4 separate regions of the Homo sapiens genome follow, and regions 2, 3 and 4 are each linked to region 1. Evidence: fine-mapped expression QTL. A gene starts in region 1. Each other region holds a variant in brackets. All regions are shown on one strand. Distances are from middle to middle. Region 1 holds the start of TMEM123 (transmembrane protein 123). Region 2 overlaps TMEM123 (transmembrane protein 123). Region 3 overlaps BIRC2 (baculoviral IAP repeat containing 2). Region 4 overlaps TMEM123 (transmembrane protein 123).

What was found. PIP is the estimated chance that this variant, and not a neighbour inherited with it, causes the effect.
Region 2: its variant is the best candidate, but not a certain one, in a credible set for the expression of TMEM123 in whole blood (INTERVAL, PIP 0.57).
Region 3: its variant is the best candidate, but not a certain one, in a credible set for the expression of TMEM123 in whole blood (TOPMed, PIP 0.87).
Region 4: its variant is the best candidate, but not a certain one, in a credible set for the expression of TMEM123 in whole blood (INTERVAL, PIP 0.62).

The regions. Positions count from the first base shown.
Region 1 is chr11:102,451,354-102,454,041 of GRCh38, reverse strand. It overlaps TMEM123 (transmembrane protein 123), which reads left to right and starts at 1,277. Exons shown (of 5, transcript NM_052932.3): 1 at 1,277-1,518. The coding sequence starts at 1,419. TMEM123-DT (TMEM123 divergent transcript) reads right to left here and starts at 1,123. Exons shown (of 2, transcript NR_135053.1): 1 at 993-1,123. RefSeq lists enhancers at 914-1,023, 1,754-2,043, 2,224-2,273 and a silencer at 1,144-1,433.
Region 2 is chr11:102,398,983-102,401,670 of GRCh38, reverse strand. TMEM123 (transmembrane protein 123) reads left to right here. Exons shown (of 5, transcript NM_052932.3): 4 at 1-132. Among named protein-coding and RNA genes, the nearest start is that of TMEM123, 52 kb to the left of the region's middle. The variant A/C (reference allele first, on the strand shown) is at 1,102.
Region 3 is chr11:102,362,931-102,365,618 of GRCh38, reverse strand. BIRC2 (baculoviral IAP repeat containing 2) reads right to left here. Exons shown (of 9, transcript NM_001166.5): 4 at 2,645-2,688; 5 at 1,903-1,951. Among named protein-coding and RNA genes, the nearest start is that of BIRC2, 17 kb to the right of the region's middle. The variant C/A (reference allele first, on the strand shown) is at 1,135.
Region 4 is chr11:102,430,708-102,433,395 of GRCh38, reverse strand. All of the region lies in intron 2 of TMEM123 (transmembrane protein 123), which reads left to right. Among named protein-coding and RNA genes, the nearest start is that of TMEM123, 21 kb to the left of the region's middle. The variant GGA/A (reference allele first, on the strand shown) is at 1,117.

The DNA.
Region 1 (2,688 bases):
GTTAAATAGAATAACCAAAATCGAAATGTGCAATGCTTGCTTTTTGTCCATGATAAGCTGCAGGGGAAACATTTGCAGGTTGGCTGACTGAATCCACAGATGGAAGTCTCTGTAAATTTAGGACAGATTGTCTCAGTTAATCTCTAGGACCAGTCAGACCTCTGTAATGATGGATTTGCCTGACATGAGAAAGTTCTACCTCTCATAACACAGTTTTCAAAAGTTAACTGCAATGTGGCCTTTATGTGATGAAATCTGGCTCAGGTGCCAAAGATCTGCAACATTAAGACCTTTGCAGGTGGGGATTCACTGTGATTTTAGGTTCCTTGGATCCTTCAGTCTTCTACTTCAGCTGAGGGTTCCCACCCAAGCCAGGACTCAGCCTTTGTTATTCTCATGCATTAGCCACAGGTAGCTATGTCACTTCAGAGTTCTGAGCACGATGAAAATGCAGACTTTACAAGCACTTCAAGTCAAGACAAGTGATTAGCATTGGCTCCAAGGGTTTAAAAGGAACTCAGCCAAAAACTGTTCAAAACTGGCCATTTCATCTGAACTGGGACAGCAGGGCACAAGGAGAGAAAAGGCTGGTTGGATTAATGCAGCCCCCGCTTTCCATGGCTCTACTGTATTTCACTGAGAGTTGCTACCAACTCCTGCGCGCGCCCCCACCCGCCCACTCCACTAATCTCGTGTCTTAATCAGAGATACAGGGAACCCGTGGAGAAGATGAAGTACAACTGGGATAAGAAGATCGTAGGTGTTTTACGTTTGAATTTAAGCAACAAATCTGTCGAGCTGTTTTTCTCCACTTCCCCCTTAGGCTGGGTCACGCGAGGGGAAAGCTCCGACCGCCCAGGACTCCTTAGAGTGAATCCCATCCCCTCAAGTTCCTCTCCAGAATCTCCCCCTCCTCCCGCCTTTGCCCTGCAACTCCTCCCTCTCACTCTGAGTCGCACGCACCCCTGTCCCCTCCCTGCCCGCAAAACTACTCTTCAAAGGCTTCCTTCCGGGCACCGCGAAGCCAGCGTGCTCAGCATTCAGGGAGGCAGCGGCGCTCGCCTTCATCCAGGACAACAAAACTGCCATTTCCGAAGAGAAAGGAAACGGCTCGCGGTTTCTGGGGTTCCCAAGCGCGCGCCTGCGAGGGAGGCCGCGAGCCGAGTCGCCACGCCCAGAACCCCGAGCCCGCCCCCGCGCCACCCAGCCCGGCCCCGCCGCCCCGGCTGCGCACGCGACGCCCCCTCCAGGCCCCGCTCCTGCGCCCTATTTGGTCATTCGGGGGGCAAGCGGCGGGAGGGGAAACGTGCGCGGCCGAAGGGGAAGCGGAGCCGGCGCCGGCTGCGCAGAGGAGCCGCTCTCGCCGCCGCCACCTCGGCTGGGAGCCCACGAGGCTGCCGCATCCTGCCCTCGGAACAATGGGACTCGGCGCGCGAGGTGCTTGGGCCGCGCTGCTCCTGGGGACGCTGCAGGTGCTAGCGCTGCTGGGGGCCGCCCATGAAAGCGCAGCCATGGCGGGTAAGTGGCTGCGGGGGTCGTCAGCCCCGTTCGTGGGAGGCAGCGCGCTGCCGAGGCTTGGGTTCCCAAGTTGGGCTCTGGTACAGAAAGTTCCGCGTGTGTCTGGCCGAACGCTCGGGGCGGACCCAGAGGTGACCGGGCGGGGTGGGGGAAACTGAGGTTTGGACCAGTCACCCGCTGGCCCCGGGGCCGCCTGCTGAGGAAATTGCCTGGTGCTTCCCCTCTCGCTTTTTGGATGCGGCGGTCGCAGGCCGGGACGGGTGCGCATAACCTGTTGAGTTACCGCAAGTTGGTTTTTACAGCCTTTCCCTGAAGTTAATGTTTGCCGAGGTTAGAGTTTCTAAGGCTTCCGTTTGTAAACAAGATTAGCTGAGTTGAAAAATATGTCTACCTAGGCCCGCGGAAACGTCTCCCAGTTAGTCGGGGAGCTTTTCAAGCGTCCCCCAGGCATTTCAGCGTCTAATATTATGCAGTATTATCCAGATGAATTACAATCTTTAGGTCCCCCTGACGCTCGAAGTTAGACTTCGGGGCTCTTGGAGCTAGTTGGGAGCTTTTGGGGAGCGCGCCCCGCCCTCGCGGTAGTTGAGGCGGCCGCCCCCATGGCGGGGCGCTCTCCACCCCTCGTGTGCCATAAACACCCGGCCGAGGCGCGCGGCAGCTGCGCAGCGTTAAGGGCACAGCTGCACGGTCGCCGGTGGCCCTTGTCGTCGCTAGTAAGGTCGTAACAGGATGATGTTGACTTTGCTTTTCTGTGTAGGGCGGAATTTGTTTCGTTTTAGGCCCTTGGCCCTTTGGAGACTTCAAACAGCCCTTTTTGGATGAAACCAGGAAGTTGGGATTTGTTGTGTAAATACTGTTTTCCTTTGTCAACTGTTAGAGAAGTCAGGTCCCTAGGTAATGGTCAGTAAACTAGGATAAGTTAAGTAACCCAAGGTTTTCATGGTTTTAAGTTCTATCCATCCACTGTATATGTTAGCCTTAGGTTCGTTTTATCCAGCAAAAGAAAAAGGCAGTTTGTAAATCTGGAAGGTTCAGGCACAACACTTGCTTTTTCTGGAATAACCTGGGTGAATTAACAATTTTTCTTTGTTTTGCTGAAGTTTTTTTGTTTGCTTAATTGTGCGTGTGACAAACTGGCTTCGCAGACCTAATTTTGAGATCATTTAA
Region 2 (2,688 bases), 52 kb after region 1:
AGCAAAGAAAGGATCAAAATTTGATACTGGGAGCTTTGTTGGTGGTATTGTATTAACGCTGGGAGTTTTATCTATTCTTTACATTGGATGCAAAATGTATTACTCAAGAAGAGGCATTCGGTATCGAACCATGTAAGTTTTGAATGGCCAGGACTTTTTAAAAAAAATTGTTGGTGCACATCTTTAATTATGATAGAATATCAAGCCAGTGCTCATCTCAGGGATGAATAATTGATAGATTTATGAGTTATATTCCCATTAACCCTTTTGGCCCAAAGTAAATTGTTTATGTACAAGCTTGTGATTATAATTATTTGCAAATGAAAATGGATGTATATACTTAAAAAAATGTATTTTACTAGTGTCAAACACACTTTACAGGAGACCAAAGTTAACCTACCCTGAAATTTTCACTTACTCATACCAATAATCGTAAGAAATACCAGTTCCCAGCAGGCTTTTGACTTAGTATGTCTGTGTCTGTTGTGGTACTAAATAGCATCCTTGGTAAAACCATGGCTTTTGTTTTCCACGACAAAGACAAAAAAAATTCCTCTGACAGCCTCATTATCCCTGAAAATTTAAATGAGTGGTTAGTATAAATAATATAATTTATCATTTTACCTGTAGCAAAACTCTCTTTTTAGATGTGCATTATCAACAAGACCTAATCCATGTTTACTCTACATGTAGCTCTATAGGTCTGATGGTTTGAGGATATATCCAAACTTTTGTTGCTCCAATAGTCCTTTTTGTTTTTGTTTTTTTGAGTCTTACGTGTTGTCTTAGTTCATGCTGACACAACAAAGTATCATACAGCTGGGTGCCTTAAACAGCAGACATTTAGTTCTCACACTTCCGGAGGCTTGGAAGTCCAAGATCAGGGTGCCACCATGGTTGAGTTCTAGTAAGGGCCTTCTTCACATGGCAGAAAGAAGGCGAGCTAGTTCTCTGACCTCTAATTGTAAGGGTATTAATTCTGTTCACGAGGGTTCCACCCTCACGACCTAACTACCTTCCCAAGGCCCCACTTCAAAATATCATCACACTGGGATTAGGGTTTCAACATACTCATATTGGGTGACACAAATGTAAGAGCTA[A/C]TTCACTTTTTTTAGTGTTAATGTATATAAATACCATAGAACAGATGACTGTTTTCCAAAATTTGCCCTGTGGGTTAACATTTGACATACATGTGTCCCACACACACAGTTCCTATATCAAAAAGTGTGGGAAATGTTCAGTTGACTAAAGTAAACTAAGACAGTTTACTATAAGACTTCTCTAAGCCTTTAAAATATTGATATACATTATGATTTTCCAGGATGGAATACAGTATGAACTGTTTCCCAAATTTTTAACCAAAATACTTGTTGAATGAATAAATCCCTCCCCCTGCCCCTCTTCAATGGGAGCTAACACTGTCTATCTCTTGGAACTAGTATTGTGTGGAACACATTTTGGGAAATGTTGGAATAGGCCATTGGAATCTTCCAGTTTTGACACTACATATGATTCAGTACACATAAAAGTAAATCAAACTTCTTGATAGATTTTAAGAACATGGAAGTTTCCCAGATTTTCAGGTTACTGACATAAGCTCTAAATAAACATCGCATCATAAATGAAAATTGGATCTAACAGTTATATTACTAATACTTAAACAAAAATGATAATTTAAGAACAGATTTTTTTTTTTTTTGAGATGGAGTTTCCCTCTTGTTGCCCAGGCTGGAGTGCAATGGCACGATCTCGGCTCACTGCAACCTCTGCCTCCTGGGTTCAAGCTATTCTCCTGCCTCAGCCTCCCCAGTAGCTGGGATTATAGGTGCCTACCACCACGCCCAGCTAATTTTTGTATTTTTGGTAGAGATGGGGTTTCACCATGTTGGCCAGGCTGGTCTCAAACTCCTGACCTTAGGTGATCCTCCCACCTTGGCCTCCCAAAGTGCTGGGATTACAGGCGTGAGCCACCATATCTGGCCTTAAAAACATATTTTTAAAAGTTATATTTAAAGTTACGTTGCATATATTTATCATATCAAACTCACTTTAGCTTCCATGATCACATGAGATCAGACACATTCACAGTGGCATGGCTGTAGGCTCAAACTGATTTTAAAAGAATATTAAGGTGGTGGTTTGTCAGATTAAAGGCATATTCAGAAACATTCTTTTTTAAGGTCAATACATGAAAGAATACATAAAAGAAACCATGACTAAACAGAGTGCTTTGCAGTGGCTCTGTCACCCAGGTTGGAGTGCAGTGGTGCGATCACGGGTCACTGCAACCTCAGCCTCCTGAGCTTAAGTGATCCTCTTACCTCAGCCTGCTGAGTAGCTGGGACTACAAGCATGCAATGCCACACCAGGCTAATTTTTAAATGTTTTATAGAGATGGTAGTCTCACTGTTTTGCCCAGGCTGGTCTCAAACTCCTGGGCTCAAGTGATCCTCCTTTCTGACCTCCTAGAGTTCTGGGATTATAAGCATGAGCCACTGTGACCAGCTAGAAAGAAATATTTAATAGGGACTTACAAATAGAAGCTATGTCTGTGTCTATGATTGCAGCAAGACAAGATGGTGGATCCCCATGCCATTAACCCCCAGATCTTTAACCACTACAGTATATTGGATACTTAAGGAACTTTACACAGAACACTGACCATTTTGATTGTGCAGCTTGAAATT
Region 3 (2,688 bases), 88 kb after region 1:
TGGGTGACAAAGTGAGACCTTGTTTCACAAAAAGAAAAAACAACGACAAAGCACCCAGTGATTATCAAATGCTAATTAACAGGTCAAGTAGTGGATTTGCTAACACGGCAGTCCCTGGTTACCATGACAAGAACAGTTTCTAGCAGAACAAGTGAAAGAATGAAAGGTGAGGAAGTAAAACAGAGTTAAGCACAGATAAATCTTCCTAGGTATTTTGTTGTAAAGGGAAGCAGAGTAATAAGGTAATAGCTGAATGGGGACATTCATTCATGGAAATTTTCCTAGGATTAGCAAAAGTACATTATGTTTATATGCTAACATGAGTGATTCAGGAGAGGTGGAAAAATTGAAGACTCGAGAGAAAGGGTATGTCACTGCCAAAGTAACCTTCTTAAGTTGACAGTAGGGGATGGAATACAGAGGACAAGTAGAAGTAATGGCCTTAGAAAAGGGCAAGGACAATTCATCTTTTATGAACAAACAGAAAAGTACAAGGATAAATTATGTAGCCTAGTGGTTTTGCTGGTGAGGCAATAAAGCAGCTCTCTTTTGGATTCTATTTTCTTAGGGAAGCAAGATTATAAACTGACAGTAAGGTGGGAAGAGAGTGTTAGAAAATTATCAAGACAGAAAACAAGAAACAGTCATTTTAAAGATTGACAAAGTGATTTTATTAGGACCTATGGTAGAACTGCAGGGCAGCCTACTTAATAGCAGTGGTTATAAATTTTAAGAACAGCCCACACTGCTATCTATCTTTTCTAGGTCTATTACACGGGAGATAGTTGTCATGTACCCAGGTACTCTCCTTCCTATTTTCCAGTACTCTCCTTCCTATTTTCCAGTCAAATACTACCAAATCCTTCATCCAATCCTCCTGAGCCATGGTTTCTAAGACTCATACATCTTGGTCACCTTTCTCTGGTCCAGTTAACAAATCTGCCAATCTTTCTTGAAATGCTGTGCCACAAACAGAATGGCCCTTTGTAGATGTGATTGGCACATAAAACGGGATTACTACCTTAGCCATTTTAGACACAATAACATATGTATATTACATAAATTGACAGATGTGGCTAACATTAAGCTCTAATCAAAAGCTATACTATTTCCTGCCCTTGCACTGAAATACAA[C/A]ATACCTGACTTAAATACCTAACATCTAGTCCAATTCTTGAATCATATGTGAATTGACGTTTTCCAAATCATGCCAACTCACAGCAAACTCTTCTTTTCTGGAGGGTTTATTATTTGCACCGCTTATTTGGCATTGCTTTGAACTATTTTTTGTTTTTCTTTTGCTTATGTCTCATTTCTCCAGTTGGAATGTCAGCACTAAAAGTGATAAGTATAGCACTAGAACAAAAACTAGTACACTTTTAGGGTCCTCCACAGTGTCATTACACTCTCTCTCTCTCTCTCTCTCTCTCTCTCTGTGTGTGTGTGTATATATATATATATATATATATATATATATATATAATATTTATTAGCTGACTTCCCAGTATTTTTCCCTATGGCTTCAGAAACTCTTTTAAAAAATACATACTTTCATTCCTACCTTTTTTTTTGGAGATGGAGTTTCGCTCTGTTGCCCAGGATGGAGTGCAATGGCATAATCTCAGTTCACTGCAACCTCCACCTCCTGGGTTCAAGCAATTCTCCTGCCTCAGCCTCCCGAGTAGCTGAGACTACAGGCACATCACACCCGGCTAAGTTTTGTATTTTTAGTAGATGGAGTTTTACTATGTTGGCCAGGCTGGTCTCGAACTCCTGACCTCAGGTGATCTGTCAACCTCGGCCTCTCAAAGTGTTGGGATTACAGGCATGAGCCACTGCACCCAGCCTATTCCTAAAATTCTTATAAAAATTTACACTCTATACTTAAAATTATCTCATACATACTTGGTGGGTCAGCATTTTCTTCTCCAGTGGTATCTGAAGTTGACAACAGCTATGAAACAAGAGAAAAGTTAATAGGTAAAAGCAGATATCCCCAACAATCTGAAAAGAACAACACTAAAATAAGCTTACTTTAAGTAAATGTATATGTTCTTTTGAGAACTGAGTGATTTATGACCTTTGCTTTGCTTTCTTTTACCCTAATCACATAGATTTCCTTAAATTTCATGTCATCCCAAATTAGAAATCAAGTATTTCTCTAGTTTCAGGAAAGTAGAAAAATGTATCAGTGGTTTCTCATTTCATTTGGAAAATAAGATTTTAACTGGGTTACTCTCCAAGGGTCTCAGCTCCTAACAAGTTATTTTTTGTTTGTTTTTCTGGAAAACAGCAAAGAGACACTAAAGATCCTTCTCCAATCCCATCACAAATTTGTACAGTGGCAGCATAAATGATTTTTCAAAATAGTAAAAACAAAAAAACAATCTTTTTTAAAAAGCCCTCAAAAATCAAGTTGGTTACAAAAGTAAAAACCAAAGATGTCATTAACATGGATGAAAGTATGTACCTACAATTAATAAAAGAGAAATAAGCATAACTTCTAATATAGGTTGGTACAAAAGTGATCACGGTTTTGGCCATGACTTTCAATGGCAAAAATCATGATCACTTTTATACCAACCTAATAATATTTTTGTTATTATAAAGCAGAATTCAATGTTGTTAATTTTAAAAATGTATTTACCTGTTCAAGAAGATGAGGATATCTACCTTGAATCTCATCAACAA
Region 4 (2,688 bases), 21 kb after region 1:
GAAATCCAGTAGGGCAGTCATTAAACCTTAAAGTTCCAAAATGATTTCCTATGACTCTGTCTCATATCCAGATCGTGCTGATGCAAGAGGTGGGCTCCCATGTCCTTGAGCAGCTCCACCCCTGTGGCTTTGCAGAGTACAGCCCCCTTCCCAGATGCTGTCACTAGCTGGCGTTGAGTGTCTGTGGCTTTTCCAGACACAGTGCAAGCTGTTGATGGGTCTACCATTCTGGGGGCTGGAGGACAGTGGCCCTCTTCTCACAGCTCCACTAGGCAGTGCCCCAGTGGGGACCCTGTGTGAGGGCTCCAGCCCCACATTTCCCTTCTGCACTGCCCTAGCAGAGTTTCTCCATGAGGCCTCCACACCTGCAGCAAACTTCTGCCTGGACTTCCAGGCATTTCCATACATTCTCTGAAATCCAGTCAGAGGTTCCCAAACCTCAATTCTTGACTTCTGTGCACCCACAGGCTCAACACTACATGGAAACCACCAAGGCCTGGGGCTTGCACCCTCTGAAGCAATGGCCTGAGCTGTACTTTGACCCCTTTTAGCCATGGCTGGAGCTGAAGCAGCTGAGACGCAGGGCACTATGTCCCCAGGCTGCATAGAGCAGGGGGCCCCTGGGCCTGGCCCAGGAAACCATTTTTCCCTCCTAGGCCTCCAGGCCTGTGATGGGAGGGGCTGCTGTGAAGGTATCTGACATGCCCTGGAGACATTTTCCCCATTGTCTTTTGGTGGTTAACATTTGGCTCCTTGTTACTTATGCAAATTCCTGCAGCCGGCTTGAATTTCTCCTCAGAGAATGGGTTTTCTTTTCTGTCACATCATCAGGCTACATATTTTCCAAACTCTTACGCTCTGCTACCTCTTGAATGCTTTGCTGCTTAGAAATTTCTTCTGCCAGGTACCCTAAATCGTGTCTCTCGAGTTCTAGTTCCACAGATCTCTAGGGCAGGGGCAAAATGCCACCAATCTCTTTGCTAAAGCATAGCAAGAGTGACCTTTACTCCAGTTCTCAACAGGTTCCTCAAATCTGCATCTGAGACCACCTCAGCCTGGACTTCATTGTCCATATCACTATCAGCATTTTGGTCAAAGCCGTTCAACAAGTCTCTA[GGA/A]AGTTCCAAACTTTCCCACATCTTTTTGTCTTCTGAGCCCTCCAAGTCTCTAGGAAGTTCCAAACTTTCCCACATTTCCCTGTCTTCTTCTAAGTCCTCCAAACTGTTTAAACCTCTGCCTGTTAACCAGTGCCAAAGTCGCTTCCACATTTTCAGCTATCCTTAGAGTAGCACCCCACTCCCAGTACCAATGTACTAGATTAATCTGTTCTTACACTGCTTTGAAGAAATACCCAAGATGGATTAATTTATAAAGAAAAGAGGTTTAATTGACTCAGTTCCACATGGCTAGGGAAGGCTTCAGGAAACTCACAATCATGGCAGAAGGCGCCTCTTCACAGGGTGGCAGGAGAGAGAAAGTGCCAGCAGGGAGATGCCAGACGCTTAAAAAACCATCAGATCTCCTGAGAACTCACTCACTATCATGGGAACAGCATGGGGGAAACTGCCCCCATGATTCAGTTACCTACCACCGGGTCACTGCCATGACACATGGGGATTACAATTCAAGATGAGATTTGGGTGGGGACACAGCCAGCCCATATCACCAAGTTGTAGAATCAACCTAACTGTTTATCAGCAGATGAATGGATAAAGCACATGTGATACATATACACACAATGGAATACTATTCAGCTTTAAAAAAGCAAATGTGCAAATTCTGTCATTTGAGACAACATGGATGGAACTGCAGAGAGTAGAATGGTGGTTCCCAGAAGCTGCAGGGTGGGGAAAAAGGGGAGATGATGGTTAAAGGATACAGAGCCTCAGAGAAGAGGAAAACTTTCTTTTTTCTAGTTCTATTGCACAGCATAGTGAATATAGTTTATCGTGTATGGTACCTTCCAAAATCGCTGAGTAAAATTTCAATGTTCTCACCACAAAAATAAGTATTTGAGGTGATGGATATGTTAATTAGCATGATTAAATTATTCTACATGTATTCATAAATCATAACATCACTTTATACCTATAAATTTATACAGCTGTAATTTGTCAGTTTACAAAGATAAGTATGTGAGGTAATGCCTATATTTATTTAGCGATTCCACATTGTGTACATATATCAAAATATCATGTTGTACACCATAAATACAGTTTTTTTTTAAGTATCCCACCGACTATTTTTAGTTTTTCTTTTTTAATCCAATGACATAAGCACAGTTTCCTAAAATGGGAACTGACCCTCTCCTACAAAACATTTCATTATGGTTATATCTTCATGACATGAAAACAACTAGTTGAAAAGTGATGACTTTTTTAGTCTATTACCTGACTGTTCAGTAAGAATTGGTTTGACTACTTTTTTCACCCCACATTGAATTTGGTTCACTAGTTTAGTGGTCCCTCCCCCATGTCATCCCCACCCAGTATGTGTATTATGTTGTATTTTGGGGAAGATACAAAGAGAAAAATTGCTTTGCTGTTAATTGAATTTGGGCAAGCTACTTAATCTCTGCCTTCTCACTTCCTGCTATGAAATAGAGCTGATTATAGAAAGATGGCTGTCTCATGCGGCTAAGAGAGTATAGCCATCTCATGGGTTAAATGAGGTAACATGTAAAGCACC